Homo sapiens: one gene and its partner. The protein of the gene in region 1 binds, or shares a complex with, the protein of each later gene. Links are inferred from orthologs where the notes say so. Each region holds a gene or a part of one and is shown in the gene's direction. Other genes may lie near its edges.

Evidence for each region. The genes of interacting proteins can lie anywhere in the genome.
Region 2: the proteins of TLN1 (region 1) and PIP5K1C are in contact, whole or in part, in a crystal structure (PDB 1Y19), measured with the Mus musculus proteins. The link is inferred for Homo sapiens from one-to-one orthologs. Residues at the interface, in NP_035732.2 of Mus musculus: Pro209, Val210, Gln211, Leu212, Leu214; in NP_032870.2 of Mus musculus: Pro646, Leu647, His648, Tyr649, Ser650, Ala651.

Annotation. Positions count from the first base shown.
Region 1 is NC_000009.12:35,729,165-35,736,950, reverse strand, and holds the start of TLN1 (talin-1), read left to right. Parts: upstream 1-4,755; 5' UTR 4,756-4,876; intron 4,877-7,786. Other genes in the region: CREB3 (cyclic AMP-responsive element-binding protein 3), read right to left, coding at 225-559, 640-724, 819-903, 1,577-1,645, 1,736-1,842, 3,466-3,555, 3,669-3,736, 3,808-3,955 and 1 more. UniProt on the Homo sapiens protein: High molecular weight cytoskeletal protein concentrated at regions of cell-matrix and cell-cell contacts. Involved in connections of major cytoskeletal structures to the plasma membrane.
Region 2 is NC_000019.10:3,648,469-3,655,499, reverse strand, and holds part of PIP5K1C (phosphatidylinositol 4-phosphate 5-kinase type-1 gamma), read left to right. Parts: intron 1-1,910; coding exon 1,911-2,210; intron 2,211-3,468; coding exon 3,469-3,674; intron 3,675-3,749; exon of another isoform or gene 3,750-5,373; coding exon of another isoform or gene 5,374-5,504; intron 5,505-6,791; coding exon 6,792-6,875; intron 6,876-7,031. UniProt on the Homo sapiens protein: Catalyzes the phosphorylation of phosphatidylinositol 4-phosphate (PtdIns(4)P/PI4P) to form phosphatidylinositol 4,5-bisphosphate (PtdIns(4,5)P2/PIP2), a lipid second messenger that regulates several cellular processes such as signal transduction, vesicle trafficking, actin cytoskeleton dynamics, cell adhesion, and cell motility.

The DNA of each region.
Region 1 (7,786 bases):
AATGTTCAGGGAGGTCAGTTGATTTCCCCAGGTACATTCATGGTGTGACAGACACATGGGTACAAATAAAAGACCCAGAAAGCCATTAAGTGTGGTGTGTTTGAGCCCTCAGTCGTCCTGACAGGGCACAGGAGCTGCGGCCAGCCCTTGCCCACCGCTTTTTATTTGGACACAGATGGGGAGCCCCCCAGGCTCCTGCTGAGACCCCCCACATATCCTCATATCTAGCCTGAGTATCTGTCCTGCAAAATGACAGAGGGGCTACCAGTAGGAAGCCATCCTCCCTTCCTTGTGAGATTTGCCTGCAGGGGGAGGATGGGACCTCGGCAGAGAGGCTCTGAGAAGAGGTCAGGGAATGGCCACTCCAGGGGAGGCTCTGCACTGGGAGCCTGAGGCATGTAATGCAGCAGGCAGGAAGTGTTGCCAGGGGCCTGGAGTACACAGTCTGAGCCGTCCAACCACTGGTGTGTGCTGTCTTTCGGCACTTCTGACTGCAGGGCAGGCAGCTCCAGCTGGTAAGGGTCCTCACTGGGGAGGGCACGAAGCTGGCGGGACAACACTGAGGAGACAAAGAATCTTCAGAGGCCAACCCAGACCTCTCCCCTTGCCCTGTCTGAGAGCTATCCTTAAGCCTCTTACCTCCATGCTCAGCTGGCAGGCTCCCCCTTGTGTCAGAGGAGTACATAGCAGGTACAAGGAGGAGGCAGAAGGAGACTAGTAGGACCTAGAGCACAGGAAAAAGGAGATGAAGAAGGGCTCTGGATTGCCCTGTCCCCACCAACTGAGAAAAGGATTTCTCCCCTCATCACCATCCTCACCAAGATGCAGGTGCTGCTGCTGCTGGTTTTGTTTGATATCTCAATCACCATGGCCTGGAGTTTCCTCAGTTGATCTAGAAGGGACCTAGAGGAAGAGAGGGGCCAATAGTGAGCATCCCCTGGCCTAGCATCCTGAGACACAGTGAAACTCCTGTTCAGGCCACCTCCTCCATCTCTGCACTGGATCCTCTCTCTTACTTTTCATTCTATTTTTGCAAACGACTTCTTCCTCTCTGGACAAAATGCCTGAAGTTCCTCATTAAAACAACAACAACAACAAAAAGCAAAAACAAAACAAAACAAAAAAACTCTGCCAGGACTTAACCTCCTTTGCGAATATCATCAGTCGTTCCCCACTGTCTGATCAGCTATGCACATAATCCTCACCAGGCATTTTCTATGTTCTCTACCTTCTGTCCCAGCTCATGTGTGTTAAGAGTTCCAGCCCAAGATGACTATGCTGGACTAGTCCTCTTGCCTAGGATGCTTTCTCTCTGCCTAGAATGCTTTCCCAACCCAACCCCAGAATCCTAACTACTATGAAAGCCCATGACGTCTTTCTTACCCCCTTTCTTTTTCTTGGTACTTAACTTATTCTTAGTTACTTGTAAATGTATTCCTCACTACTGGGAGCTTCTTGGAATCAGAGACCTAGTGAAGGCAGCTGCCCAGTTAGAAATCAAGTGTAGGGCAGGGGAAAGAGTGAGAAAGCATTAAATGAGGGGCATAGGAAGGGAATGGTTTGGAGGGATACTTACAAATTCTGTTCCTCCAGAAGCTGTACTTTGTTCTGAAGCTCCATATTCTGGGCTGTGTATTTCAAGACCCTGGGGGAAATAACAAAGATACGGGGATATGGCCTGTATCCTCCCTTCAAAAACCTAATACTTACAACAGAGTCCCTCTCCCTTTCATACCTGCTCTCTAAACCCCCAACATACACCTTCTTTTTCCTGCGGCTCTCTTGAGCAGATCTTTTATTTCGAATCTTCCTCCGCACACGTTTCAGAATTTGTTCCTCTGTCTGAAAGGAAACAGGGAAAGGGATATCATTAGAGGAACTCTAGAAAAAGGAGTTGAAACGCAACTGAGATCAATCTCTTTCCAATACAGAAATCCCTTCTACAGCTTCCCTGACCAACAGGCATTCAGATTCTTTCTGAATGCCTCCACGGACCAGGTGTTAACCCTAACAAGCCAGACCATTTTAAACTATTAAAAAAAAAACTGGTCGGGCAGTATTCAGGCGACGTGGCTCATGCCTGTAATCCCAACACTTTGGGGAGCTAAGACAGGAGGACCGGTTGAGCCCAGGAGTTTGAGACCAGCCTGAGCAACATAGTGAGACCTTGTCTCTACTAAAAATAAAAAATTAGCCGGGTGTGGTGGCACATGCCTGTGGTCCCTGCTACTCAGGAGACTGAGGAAGGAGGATCACTTGAGCCTGAGAGGTTGAAGCTGTAGTGAGCCATGATCTCGCCACTATTCTCCAACCTGGGCAATAAAGCAAGAACCTGTCTTCAAACAAGCAAATAAAAACTTCCTTATCCTGAACCAACAGCTGCCTCCTTATAATTTCTATCCGTTGGACTTACCTAGTATCTCTGGGGCCAAATAGAATAAACCCTGTTTAGCTATTTTAAGGCACTTAACATTTCCTCAGAGCTTAAAGAAAAAAAAAAAGACAAAATTTTTAACTCATCTTCTCAGGATAGACTGCATCCTCTTAGTATCTGTCAAAGATGTGCTCTAGCCAGTATCAAGGAAAGCAAGAGAGTGACTTGTAGAGACAATAACTCTATTGCTACAGTTTCCAAATCCCATGAACTTTCTTAGTAGCCACATCACACTGCTGACTCATCTTGTACTTTGAAGAAATTAAAATTCTTCACTTTGGGAGGCCAAGGTGGGTAGATCACTTGAGCCCAGGAGTTCGAGACCAGCCTGGCAACAAGGCAAAACCCCATTTCTACTAAAAATACCAAAAAAAAAATTGCCGGGCAGGGTAGTGTGCACCTGTAGTCTCAGCTACTCGGGAGGCTGAGGTGGGAGAATCACCTAAGCCCAGAAAGTCAAGGCTGCAGTGAGCCATGATCACATCAGTGCACTCCAGCCTGGGCAACAGAGCAAGACCTTGTCAAAAAATATATATATATTCCTGTAACCTTTCTATTAATGAGCACTGATTTCATCATAGTACCCCAGTACTCTGCTTGTGAAGTTGCCACTCATTGCTTAAAACTGAAAACTAAGGATTTTACATTTATTCATGTACTGCTTAGTCCAACCCTGTTGAACTCTCTAAACAGTTCTACCATTCAGCAAGAGGTGGATTACTATGAAGCCAACGAAGTGTCAAGGCCCTTCACTTACACAGTCCTTTCCAAGGCCCAATACTAATGTTGCACTGATAATTTTGAGTTATTTTTTTAACAGAACACCAAAATTTGTATAAGCCCAACAAAAACGAGGATCTGCCCTTGCATCTGGCATATTGTGTACCTGCCTCAACTTCCTATTAGCAATAAATCTACTAAGTTTCTCACCTCAATCCTTTTTTAAAGTTATTGATATAAAGTTAACAGAATTTGCCTACTTGGGACTTTTAATCCCTTTTCAGCCTTTGTTCAACCAATGAGAGTCTTACCTTAGTGAGAGGAAGTGTCTCAGGCAGAATAAGCCCCTCCTTCTCCAATAGACTCTTCTCCTCATCTGTCAGTACTAGCCTAGCAATCTCCTAGGGTAACAAGAAAGTGGACGGCAGTTGCATGGGGATGTCAGAGAGGAATGGGGAATCCTGCCCCCACCTGGGGAATGTGAGAGTAATCTCCTGAAAATCAAGTCAAGTACCTGCTCTGCCAGCTCCTCCATATGCTGTGGAGTCATCTGGGTCCCCTCTTTTCTACAGCTCTCACTCTCTGCAAAAGGGAAAGTATGAATAGCCAGGCCCATGAACCCTGTCCTCCCCGCAAACTTATTTCAGACTCACCTAGATCCATAGAGACAGTTTCCCGTGGGAGGGAGTAGGTGTGGTCATGGTGGACAAGGCAGGGGTTGGAGGAGCTGAGAATGTTCAACGACGCTGGGGGACTCAGCAGGGAGCACAGCAAATCATCTACTTCCCAGTCGCTCGGTACCTGCGCAGGGTTCCAATGAACAGGCCTTGACCTTATCACCATCACCTGACTTCATGGACATCCCACGCTTTCCCCAGTCAGAACCCCAACCTACCTCAGAAAGCGGCAGCGCCCAGTCCAGTGGGGCCCTCACGGCCTCATCGGGTGCCGTCCCCAAATCTCCACTTTCCTCTAGCAGGAAGGCCAGCAGGTCTTGGTCACCAGCATCCAATTCCAGCTCCATTTGGGACAACTACGGAAAGGGTGGGCCACCGGGCCCCAACGTCCGAAGCCCAGACACGAGCCCCAGGCCAGCTGTAGGCCTCGGGCACCTATCCACTGTCCCTCTACGGCCGGGATTCCCCGCCGGCGGCTTTCCATAGCCCTCTCCGGACCCGCCTCCCAGGCTCAATTCTCCTCAGCCTCCAACGCAGCGAAAGTGACGCACCCCACCCCGTGGCACTGTGGGACTTGGAGTTCCCTCCAACTGAGAAGAGGCTTGGGTGCAGCGCCACGTCCCAGGGGCTATGCAAATGTAGGGGACGGCCCTGCTGCCGCCTCGCACCCCGAGGGCGGGGGTTCCGGGGCTCCGGCTCCGCCTTCTACCCCAAGCTAGAAAAAGGAAGAGTTCTAGCCTGAAAGGGAACTCGGGCGTCGTCCTGGCGTCCTCTCCGGATTGCGCCGCACCCTCGCTTCCTGCCAGGGAGGGGCTGCCGGGCTTTGGCGGCTCCCGAGCATCGAGAACGGGGCCAGAGCAGCTTCCTGCCTGCCCCCCGCGACCATAGAGCGCGGGCCCAGGGCGCCGCCCGCGGGTGGGGGACGTTCCCAGGACGGAAGTGGCCGAGAGAGTGTCGAAGGGAGGGCGAGGCCGGAGCCCGAGGGCGACCCGAGAAGCGGCGGGGCGGCGGGCCGGCGGGCGGGGCGCAGAGCCAGGCAGCGCAGGTAGGCCAGACCGGGCCGGGCGGGGGCCTTAGGGTGGGGCCGCGGGGCCTGGCCCCGGGGCGGGCGGGCCCTGCCTCTCTTGCGTGTCCGGTTCGGGTCCTATTAGTTGGAGAGGTCAGCGTCCAGCGCATCTCGGCTTGAGCTCGGCGTGAAGTAGGCCGTCTTGGGGAAGACAGGCCTTTCCTGGGAGCAGTCCTATGTCTGGGATAGGCTTTGGGGAGCGTGAGGAGTCGGGTGGCAGCGGGGCGCAGGGCGGGGACGGGCTTTGGTGTTAGCTGATAGCGGGCATGTGGGTAGGAAAGCTTTGGGTGAGTTGGGGATTAGGTGGGGTCCGTTTAGGAATCAAGGGTCGCTATAGGAGTTAAAAGCTGGGGTTAAAACTTAAGAGTTAGTGTGAGTCAGGTCCGTTTTAGATAGGTAAGGTTTAGATTACGGTCATTATCTTGTTTGCTGGGATGGCCATCATACGTCATAATTTGAGTTCAGGGTCAGGTTAAGGGTCAACAAACAACAGGAATCAGGTTAGAGCTTGTTTGAGGGATTAAAGAATGTTGGCATGGTCGGTGTTAAGGATAAACAGTGAAAGCGTGAGTTAGGAATCAAATTATAAATGAACTTTAGGCTTAGGGGTCAACATTTAGGGTTAACATCAGGGGATTTGGTGCTAAAGGCAAAACTTAGATCAGTTTCAGGGATCAGGGATTGGATATGAGTCTGTGCTAGGAAAGGGATGAATGTCCAAGCCGGTACTGGGAATCAGGAAACAAATTAGAGGTGGGGTTAATGTTAGGAATTTGGGGCAGCTTTAGGGGTTGTGGTTTGAGGCTAGCATAGTTGACCTTGAGCAGATAAAATTTAAGAGGTTGGCAGTAGGTAAATGCCCTTCTTTTGTAGGGAAATCCTTTATTCCTATGTAGTTACAGGGGCTTCTTTTTACCCAGAGAGATAAACTAATTTCAGGCTAGCGTTCTGGCTTTAGCTAGAATTGCAGGCATCTGGGATTCCAGCTTCTTTATTCCATTCTCTAAGCCCAAGGCCCTTGCTGTGGCCACCACAGTTAGGGGACAGAGATTCTGGACTGTGTTGTTTACAGACAACATAGGTGGGAAATAGGGACCCAGGATGTACAAGGCCTAGTCACAAGTTGGGGACTGCCTAGGGAAGAAGGAGCTGATGACTATGGGGGAAGCTAACCAAGGAATCACTGTTGCCATGGGAGAAGGGAATAACTGAATCCCCTGAAAGTTTAGCCCTGCTTCTCCCACTTCACTTGTTCTCTTGGTATTAAGCCCTCCTCTCCAACTCTCATCCCTGACTCTGCATTTCACACCCATCCTGCCTATCCCCTTACAAAATACTTCCCTTGCCTTTAACTCTCCCATGCTCATCTTATCATCCGTTCCCATCCTTAGTTCTACCTCCCTCACCAACCTTTAATCCGCACATCCTACCTGAATTTACCCTCATCAAAACCTGAGCTTTCCCATCATTTTAAATTACTCTCCTACCATTTTCACCCAGTCATGTACCTACATTCCACCTGGTCATCTGCTGAATACCCTACTCCCATCCCCTGCTGTGTGTCACCCCCTGGATCTAAGCCTCTTTTAATTTCTTGGACCATTTGTAGATCCCCTTCCCCCACTCCCCAACAGAAAAGAGGAAACGAGACCCAAAGAGGAAACTGGGTCTTGCTGATCCCACGCCCAGCCAGGCCACTGACCACACCCCCACTTCACTCCCAGCCTGACCCTGCCACTGACCACAGCACTATCCTCTACTCAGCCTGACCCAGCCACTGGCTGTACCCCATCCCCCATCCCAGCTCCAGCTTTACTTAGACATTGCCAATGTCCCTTCACTTTCCCACCCCCACCCCAGTCTGATTTAGTGACTGACCACAGGCCCAGCTCTTCTCAACCTCCTATAGCCTGACCTGGCCTCTGACCTCACCCCATCATTCCCTGACTTAGCCACCATCCATGTAATCATTCCCCTTCCCCCAACCTGATGCAGTGACTGGTCATATATGTATCTTATGTATATGTATTTTTCCAAACACCATCATCACCAGCATTCTTTTTCTACACCCTGTCTTCTCATCCTTTTTCTACACCCTGTCTTCCCCATTCCCAGCCTGATGCAGTCACTAACCCAACCCCATCTGCCCCTAGTGGCTACTAATCATATACTCATACCCTTTTTCCCCACAGCCTAACCACATCCCGTAACCACAGCCTCATCCTCACATTCTCTGCCCAACCTGATCCTTTCCCCTCTTCCCAATTCGTCGCCTAAACTCAAGCTGCCCCAGCCGCTAAAGTGGCTGCTGATGATAGGAAGCTGTGGGACTCTAACCTGTCTACCTTAGTAGTTATTAGGTCCTGTCATTTCTACCTCCCCAAACTTGTTCTGAGTGACATCTTCCTCAATGCCATTCCAACTCCGGCTTCATTACCTTTAATTTGTACTAATACAGTGTCCTTCTAACTAATCTCCAAGGTAACTGCCAGAGTTATTTTTCTAAAATCCAGTTCCGGTTATGTCTCTTCTCTGCTCAAAGACTCCCTTGGCTTCCTTTTGTCCTCCAATAAGTAAAATTCCTCATACCCCTCTCCAGTCTTCCTCTGCCTTTCCATCCTAACCCTGACTTCCCCACCACTGCTCCCTTGCAGGTACCCCTGTGCTTCAACAGCCTGCCTGCTCACTTCCCTGAATGCTCCTCCACGATTTACTGCTTCTCCATCTTTGCTTATGCTATTTCTCTGCCTGGAGTGAAAACTACCCCTGACACATCTCCAGCTGGCTGGCGTAGTGGAGAAAGCTTGGGCTTTGCAGTCAGAAACCTGGGTTCGGATCCTGGCTTCACAACTTATTATTTGGAGAAGTATTTGAACAAGTATTTAACAT
Region 2 (7,031 bases), on another chromosome or scaffold:
AATGCGAATTCCATATCACTTTCACGTGTCATCAAAGACTATTTTCTATTTCTCCACTTTTTTATTTATTTATTTATGTTTTGAGACGGAGTCTCGCTCTGTCACCCAGGCTGGAGTGCAGTGGTGCCATCTTGGCTCACTGCAGCCTCCCCCTCCTGGGTTCAAGCCATTCTCCTGCCTCAGCCTCCCGAGTAGCTGGGACTACAGGCGCCCGCCACCACGCCTGGCTATTTTTTTATATTTTTAGTAGAGACATGGTTTCACCGTGTTAGCCAGGATGGTCTCGATTTCCTGATGTCGTGATCTGCCTGTCTCGGCCTCCTGGAGTGTTGGAATTATAGGCGTGAGCCACCGCGCCTGGCCTCTTCATTTTTTTTTTTTTTTTTTTTTTTGAGATGGAGTCTCGCTCTGTCACCCAGGCTGGAGTGCATTGGCGTGATCTTGGCTTACTGCAAGCTCCGCCTCCTGGGTTCAAGCGATTCTGCTGCCTCAGCCTCCTGAGTAGTTGTGATTCCAGGCACCTACCACCACGCCTGGCTAATTTTTGTATTTTTAGTAGAGATGGGGTTTCACCGTGTTGGTCAAGCTGGTCTCCTGACTTCATGATCTGCCTGCCTTGGCCTCCCAAAGTGCTAGGATTATAGATGTGAGCCACTGTGCTTGGCCTTTTTTTTTTTTTTTCTTTTGAGATGGAGTCTGGCTCTGTTGCCCAGGCTGGAATGCAATGGCACAATCTCGGCTCACTGCAACCTCCATCTCCTAGGTTCAAGTGATTCTCCTGCCTCAGCCTCCCAAGCAGCTGGGATTACAGGCATGCGCCACCACTCCCAGCTAATTTTTATTTTTAATAGAGACGGGGTTTCACCATGTTGGCCAGGCTGGTCTCAAACTCCTGACCTCAGGTGATCCGCCCGCCTCGGCCTCCCACAGTGCTAGGATTACAGGCATGAGCCATCGCACTGGGCCCTTTCCACTTTTTAAAAATGGAAAAACCATTCTTAGCTCACAGCCCTACAAAAATAGGTGGTGGCCGGATTCGGCCCAGGGGCTGGAGTTCACCTAGCCTGCCCAGGCTGGTGCCTGAGTCCGCGCCCCTCACTCCTCTCCCTGTGGGTCTGTCTCAGCCCCGACACCTGGGCAGCTTCCCACTGGGTTCGTCATTGAGAGGCTCTGGGCAGGGGGCGCTGTTGCTTCACTTGGGTGCCCCTGAGTCACCCAGTGCCTGCTTGGGGTCTACAGGGTACAGCAGGACCCAGACTCGTCACTGCGCCTGGGGACCCAGATTTGGAGTGAAAGTCTGAGTTGATCAGTTCAACACAGGCAAAGCATAACCAACATAGAGGCTGGGCTCACGCCTGGAGTCCTGGCACTTTCGGAGGCTGAGGTGGGAGGATGGTTTGAGCCCTGGAGGTGGAGGCTGCAGTGAGCTGTGATCGCACCGTTGCACTCCAGCCTGGGCGACAGAGCGAGACCCTGTCTCAAGAAAATACATGTGTGTGTGCGTGTGTGTGTATGTGTTTGTGTGTGCATATACATACATGTATGTATTTTAGGATACAGCATTGCGTTTCCGGCCTCCAGACCTCCCAACAGGCGAGCCCAGCCAGGGCGATGTCTGTGGGCAGGCAGGGAGTGTGGAAGCTTCTGCTGGAACAGAAGCGCCTGCCTTGGGGCCTGGCTCTGTAGAAACAGACCCTCCTGGAGCTCACAGTTGTGGCCCATGAGAGTCAGGGTGCCGTGGGAAGGCCAGCTGGGTGCCTGCATAGGAACGGGGTCCCCGAGGGCTTCTGGGGAGAGAGGGGGGCTGGCCAGGGGCATCCATGAGCCCCCTGAGGCAGAGGCCTGCTTTGCCCGCCCCCGTGAGTCTGTGGCCCAGCCGCCCTCCACGACTTGCCCTCTTCCCCCGGCAGAACCTCAACCAGAACCCGCGGACGCTGCTGCCCAAGTTCTATGGGCTGTACTGCGTGCAGTCGGGGGGCAAGAACATCCGCGTCGTGGTCATGAACAACATCCTGCCCCGCGTGGTCAAGATGCACCTCAAGTTCGACCTCAAGGGCTCCACCTACAAGCGGCGCGCCAGCAAGAAGGAGAAGGAGAAGAGCTTCCCCACCTACAAGGACCTGGACTTCATGCAGGACATGCCCGAGGGGCTCCTGCTGGACGCCGACACCTTCAGCGCCCTGGTCAAGACGCTGCAGCGGGACTGCCTGGTGAGGGCTCGGCCCCGGCCGGGGAGGGAGGGTGGCAGGTGGGACTGCGTGGTGAGGGCTCGGCCTGGGCAGGCAGGGCCAGGGAGGGTGCCAGGCCGAGGCCCACCTGCCCTGCAGCCTACAGCAGGCCCCACCCCAGTGTGGGATCCAGAAGCGCTCAAGCTTTTATGGCCTTAACCTAAAATGTGGCCGGACACAGTGGCTCACGCCTGGGATCCCAGCTCTTTGGGAGGCAGGCAGATGGCTTGAGCCCAGGGTTTCAAGACCAGCAGGGGCAACATTGTGAGACCCCATCTCACAAAGAAAACAAAACACTTATAACATGTCCCCAGACCCAGCCCTTGGGGGTCGGGAGTGTCTGCACTGCTGAGAAGTGGTTCCTCTGGAGGTTACACGATGACAGTGGTAGAGTCCCCCCACCCCCCAGAGAAGAGCCCAGCCTTCAGATGCTGTGGTCACAAGCCCAGAGCTCCCAGCCAGCCATGAGAGCTTGCTGTGCCTCAGTTTCCTCACCCATCAAATGGGATGACTGCTTGCTCTGCAGGCCACAGTGAGGGCCCATGTGCGTCCAGTGAGGGTCTGGCTCCTGTCCCCGTGGAGCCTGCGTTGGCTCCGTGTTAGCGAAAGAATGATATGCACGGCTCTTCCTCTGCCTGGGTTAGCTCCGTCGTCCCCGTCCCACCCCGGCAGCTTCGAGGCATGGAGCCAAGGAGGGGAGGCCCCAGCCTGTCAGGAGCAGAGCCTGGGACCTCCCAGCTCCCCAACTCCACCCAGGCCCCGCTGCTGACCATCCCCAGCTCCCCGACCCCTTTGAGAACTTGACCCATACCCCCAGAAAACCGCCCAGACCACTCAGGGGCCTTGAGGCTACCCTGGGCATCCACCCACCTGGGTGTCACCTGTCAGGCCGGGCACGTCCTTGCCCATGGGCCTGGGCTGGTCAGAGCATAGGCCCGGCTCCCTGTCTCTCAGGAAGGAGTAAAGCCAGGAAGGGAAGTCCCTGTCTCAGTGCCCGGGGCAGCCTGCTGTGAGGCTGGAAGCCCCCATTCTCTGGCCTGCTCTGATGCCGCTGTGTGACCGCAGCCCCTCTGTTCCTCAGGATAACACTAGAACCCCCACTCCTGCCTGGCCGTGGGACTCCATCTCTCACACCCGAGCCCACGGGGCCATCCGTGCTGGGAACCCCATAGGGTCCGGGAGCCGTTGTGGGGGATAGAGACGGCTGACGGCGTGGCGTGTTCCTGCCCGATCCCGCCAGGTCCTGGAAAGTTTCAAGATCATGGACTACAGCCTGCTGCTGGGCGTGCACAACATCGACCAGCACGAGCGCGAGCGGCAGGCGCAGGGCGCCCAGAGCACCTCAGATGAGAAGCGGCCTGTGGGCCAGAAGGCGCTCTACTCCACGGCCATGGAGTCCATCCAGGGTGGCGCCGCGCGCGGGGAGGCCATCGAATCGGATGACACGTAGGTGGGCGGGGGGCCGCCGGACCCGTCCCGCTTCCCTTCCCCACAGGCTCCAGTTCCCCATCCCCGTCCCAAGTGTGAAAACAGGCAGGGAGGGCTGGCGAGGGCATGCGTGGGTGACAGACAGAGTCTGGGAGCCTTGTGCCAGCGCCTCAGAGCGAAGCCAGGCCGTAGTGCGGGCCGCAGGCTGAGTGCAGGGTTCCGGGCCTTGGCTTGCAATGGTGGGGGCGTTTCCCATTCACCCGTGACTGGGCCGAGGCCACTGGCCATCCACAGGAATGAGAGAGAGATAGCGTTTCCCGGTGGCACTCAGAGGGGTCTACACGCCACCCGTGCAGAGAGGGGCCACAAAGGTGTGGAAGGCGCATGGGAGGCCAGAGGGATCGGGCGAGGCAGGGCTCACAGCAGGACACAGCCCACGAAGCAGAGGGACTGCAAAATCCGATTCCACACAGATCAAAGCAGCTGCTGGCTGGGCGCAGTGTCTCATGCCTGTACTCCCAGCACCTTGGGAGACCAAGGTGGGAGGATTGCCTCAGCCCCGGAGTTCAGTACCAGCCTGGGCAACATGGCAAGACCCCATCTCTACAAAAAATATAAAATGTAGCTGGACGTGGTGGCACGTGCACCTGTAGTCCCAACTACTTGGGAGGCTGAAGGCGTGGCAGGCGTGAGCGTGGCAGGCGGAGGTTGCAGTGAGCCAAGATCACACCACTGCACTCCAGCTTGGGCAACAGAGTGAGACCCTGTCTTAAAAAAAAAAAAAAAAACGCTGGGCGCGGTGGCTCACACCTGTAATCCCAGCACTTTGGGAGGCTGAGGCAGGTGGATCATCTGAGGTCAGGAGTTCCAGACCAGCCTGGCCAACATGGTGAAACCCCATCTCTGCTTAATACAAAATATTAGCTGGGCGTGGTGGTGCACGCCTGTAATCCCAGCTACTTGGGAGGCTGAGGCAGGAGAATCGCTTGAACCCAGGAGGTGGAGGTTGCAGTGAGCTGAGATTGAGCTATTGCACTCCAGCCTGGGCAACAAGAGCTAAACTCTGTCCAAAAAGAAAAAAAAAGTGGCTGCCACAGAAGATAGGAACGGTGGTGGAGAGAGGAGGCCACATCTCAGTGGCCTGCAGTCATGTCTGCTGGACACCAGGGGCAGAGGGACCAGGCAGGCCCTGCCCTCACAGGGCTCAGGGTTTGGCTGGGGAGATACTCACAGAGCTCTCCTGGGACACTGGATGTGAGGGCTGGGTCATTCTCTGGGGTGGGGCTGTCCTGGGCACTGCAGGGTGCTGAGCAGCGTCCCGGGCCTCCACCCACTCCGGGCCAGGAGCACCCCCCAGTTGTGACAACCACAGATGTCCCCAGACATGGCCCCGGATGCGGGATAGACAGGTGTCGTATAGCAGTGCTGAGATTGTGCCCTGGTCACAGCAGCACCCTGACAGTGGGGGCAGGCCCGAGCCTTCACTTTGGTACCTGTTCAGTCTTCACAGCGGCCTTGGAGGAGGGAGGTGGGCTTCCCCTGTTTCCAGCTGAGGAAATAGGCTCCTAGGTTGGGGGGCAGCCTTCCCCAGTGCAGCCACGAAGGTGTGGAGCCAAGTTCCACCTGGCCTGGCCCCAGGGACGGTGCTGGCTGGCACTGGCTGGCACTAGGCCACCAGCTGGGCTTTGGTTTGCAGCGGTGGTGGTATTTCCCATGGATGGCAGAGGAGGAGCCGGGGCCCCAACCAGGGTGTAGCTGCGGGGGGGTGCGGGAGCCAAGGCCAGGCACAGCTCCCCCTCAGACCATCCTGGCGTTTGTAGGGTCTTCGCTGGCCTGGCGGGGGAGCAGGTGAGCGTACCAGCCTGTGGCGTGAGCAGAGCGTGCAGGGCGCCAGCCCAGCGGGTCTGGGTCCCAGTGGCTTCAGGATGACTGCTGCACGTGTGGCCTCACTAACCGCGCTGGGCAGGGGACGTGTGGGCACGGTGCCGGGTGACAGTTAACTCCCGCGCTGGGCAGGGGACGTGTGGGCACGGTGCCGGGTGACAGTTAACTCCCGCGCTGGGCAGGGGACGTGTGGGCACGGTGCCGGGTGACAGTTAACTCCCGCGCTGGGCAGGGGACGTGTGGGCACGGTGCCGGGTGACAGTTAACTCCCGCGCTGGGCAGGGGACGTGTGGGCACGGTGCCGGGTGACAGTTAACTCCCGCGCTGGGCAGGGGACGTGTGGGCACGGTGCCGGGTGACAGTTAACTCCCGCGCTGGGCAGGGGACGTGTGGGCACGGTGCCGGGTGACAGTTAACTCCCGCGCTGGGCAGGGGACGTGTGGGCATGGTGCCGGGTGACAGTTAACTCCCGCGCTGGGCAGGGGACGTGTGGGCACGGTGCCGGGTGACAGTTAACTCCCGCGCTGGGCAGGGGACGTGTGGGCACGGTGCCGGGTGACAGTTAACTCCCGCGCTGGGCAGGGGACGTGTGGGCACGGTGCCGGGTGACAGTTAACTCCCGCGCTGGGCAGGGGACGTGTGGGCACGGTGCCGGGTGACAGTTAACTCCCGCGCTGGGCAGGGGACGTGTGGGCATGGTGCCGGGTGACAGTTAACTCCCGCGCTGGGCAGGGGACGTGTGGGCATGGTGCCGGGTGACAGTTAACTCCCGCGCTGGGCAGGGGACGTGTGGGCATGGTGCCGGGTGACAGTTAACTCCCGCGCTGGGCAGGGGACGTGTGGGCATGGTGCCGGGTGACAGTTAACTCCCGCGCTGGGCAGGGGACGTGTGGGCATGGTGCCGGGTGACAATTAACTCCCCAGTCTGTACCTGAGACCCCGTGGCCCTACCTGGGCATGCAGTGTGCGTGTGTGTGCATGTGTGTGTCCAGGCACACGTGTGTGTAGGGGGTATGTGCCCAGGCCTCCTAGCTGGGACTCCTCAGCAGTGCCTGGGCCTGGGTTTGAGGCTGGGGGTGATGGAGGGATGTCAGGACAGAGGTTCCCGGGTGCCAGGCCCCACTCCGAGAGCTTGGCCAAGTTGCCACCCACAGGAGCAGATGGACTCCCTAGCCCTGGAGTCCCCAGCCCCGCCTGCCCCGAGTCCCAGCTCTGCGGGATGCTGATGGTACCCTCGGCCTCTCTCCCCAGGATGGGCGGGATCCCCGCTGTGAACGGCCGCGGGGAGCGGCTGCTGCTGCACATTGGCATCATCGACATCCTGCAGTCCTACAGGTGGGTGCCCGGGTCTGCAGTCCTACAGGTGGACGCCCCGGGTCTGCAGTCCCACAGGTGGGCGCCCGGGTCTGCAGCCCCACAGGTGGGCGCCCGGGTCTGCAGCCCCACAGGTGGGCGCCTGGGTCTGCAGTCCCACAGGTGGATGGGCGCCCC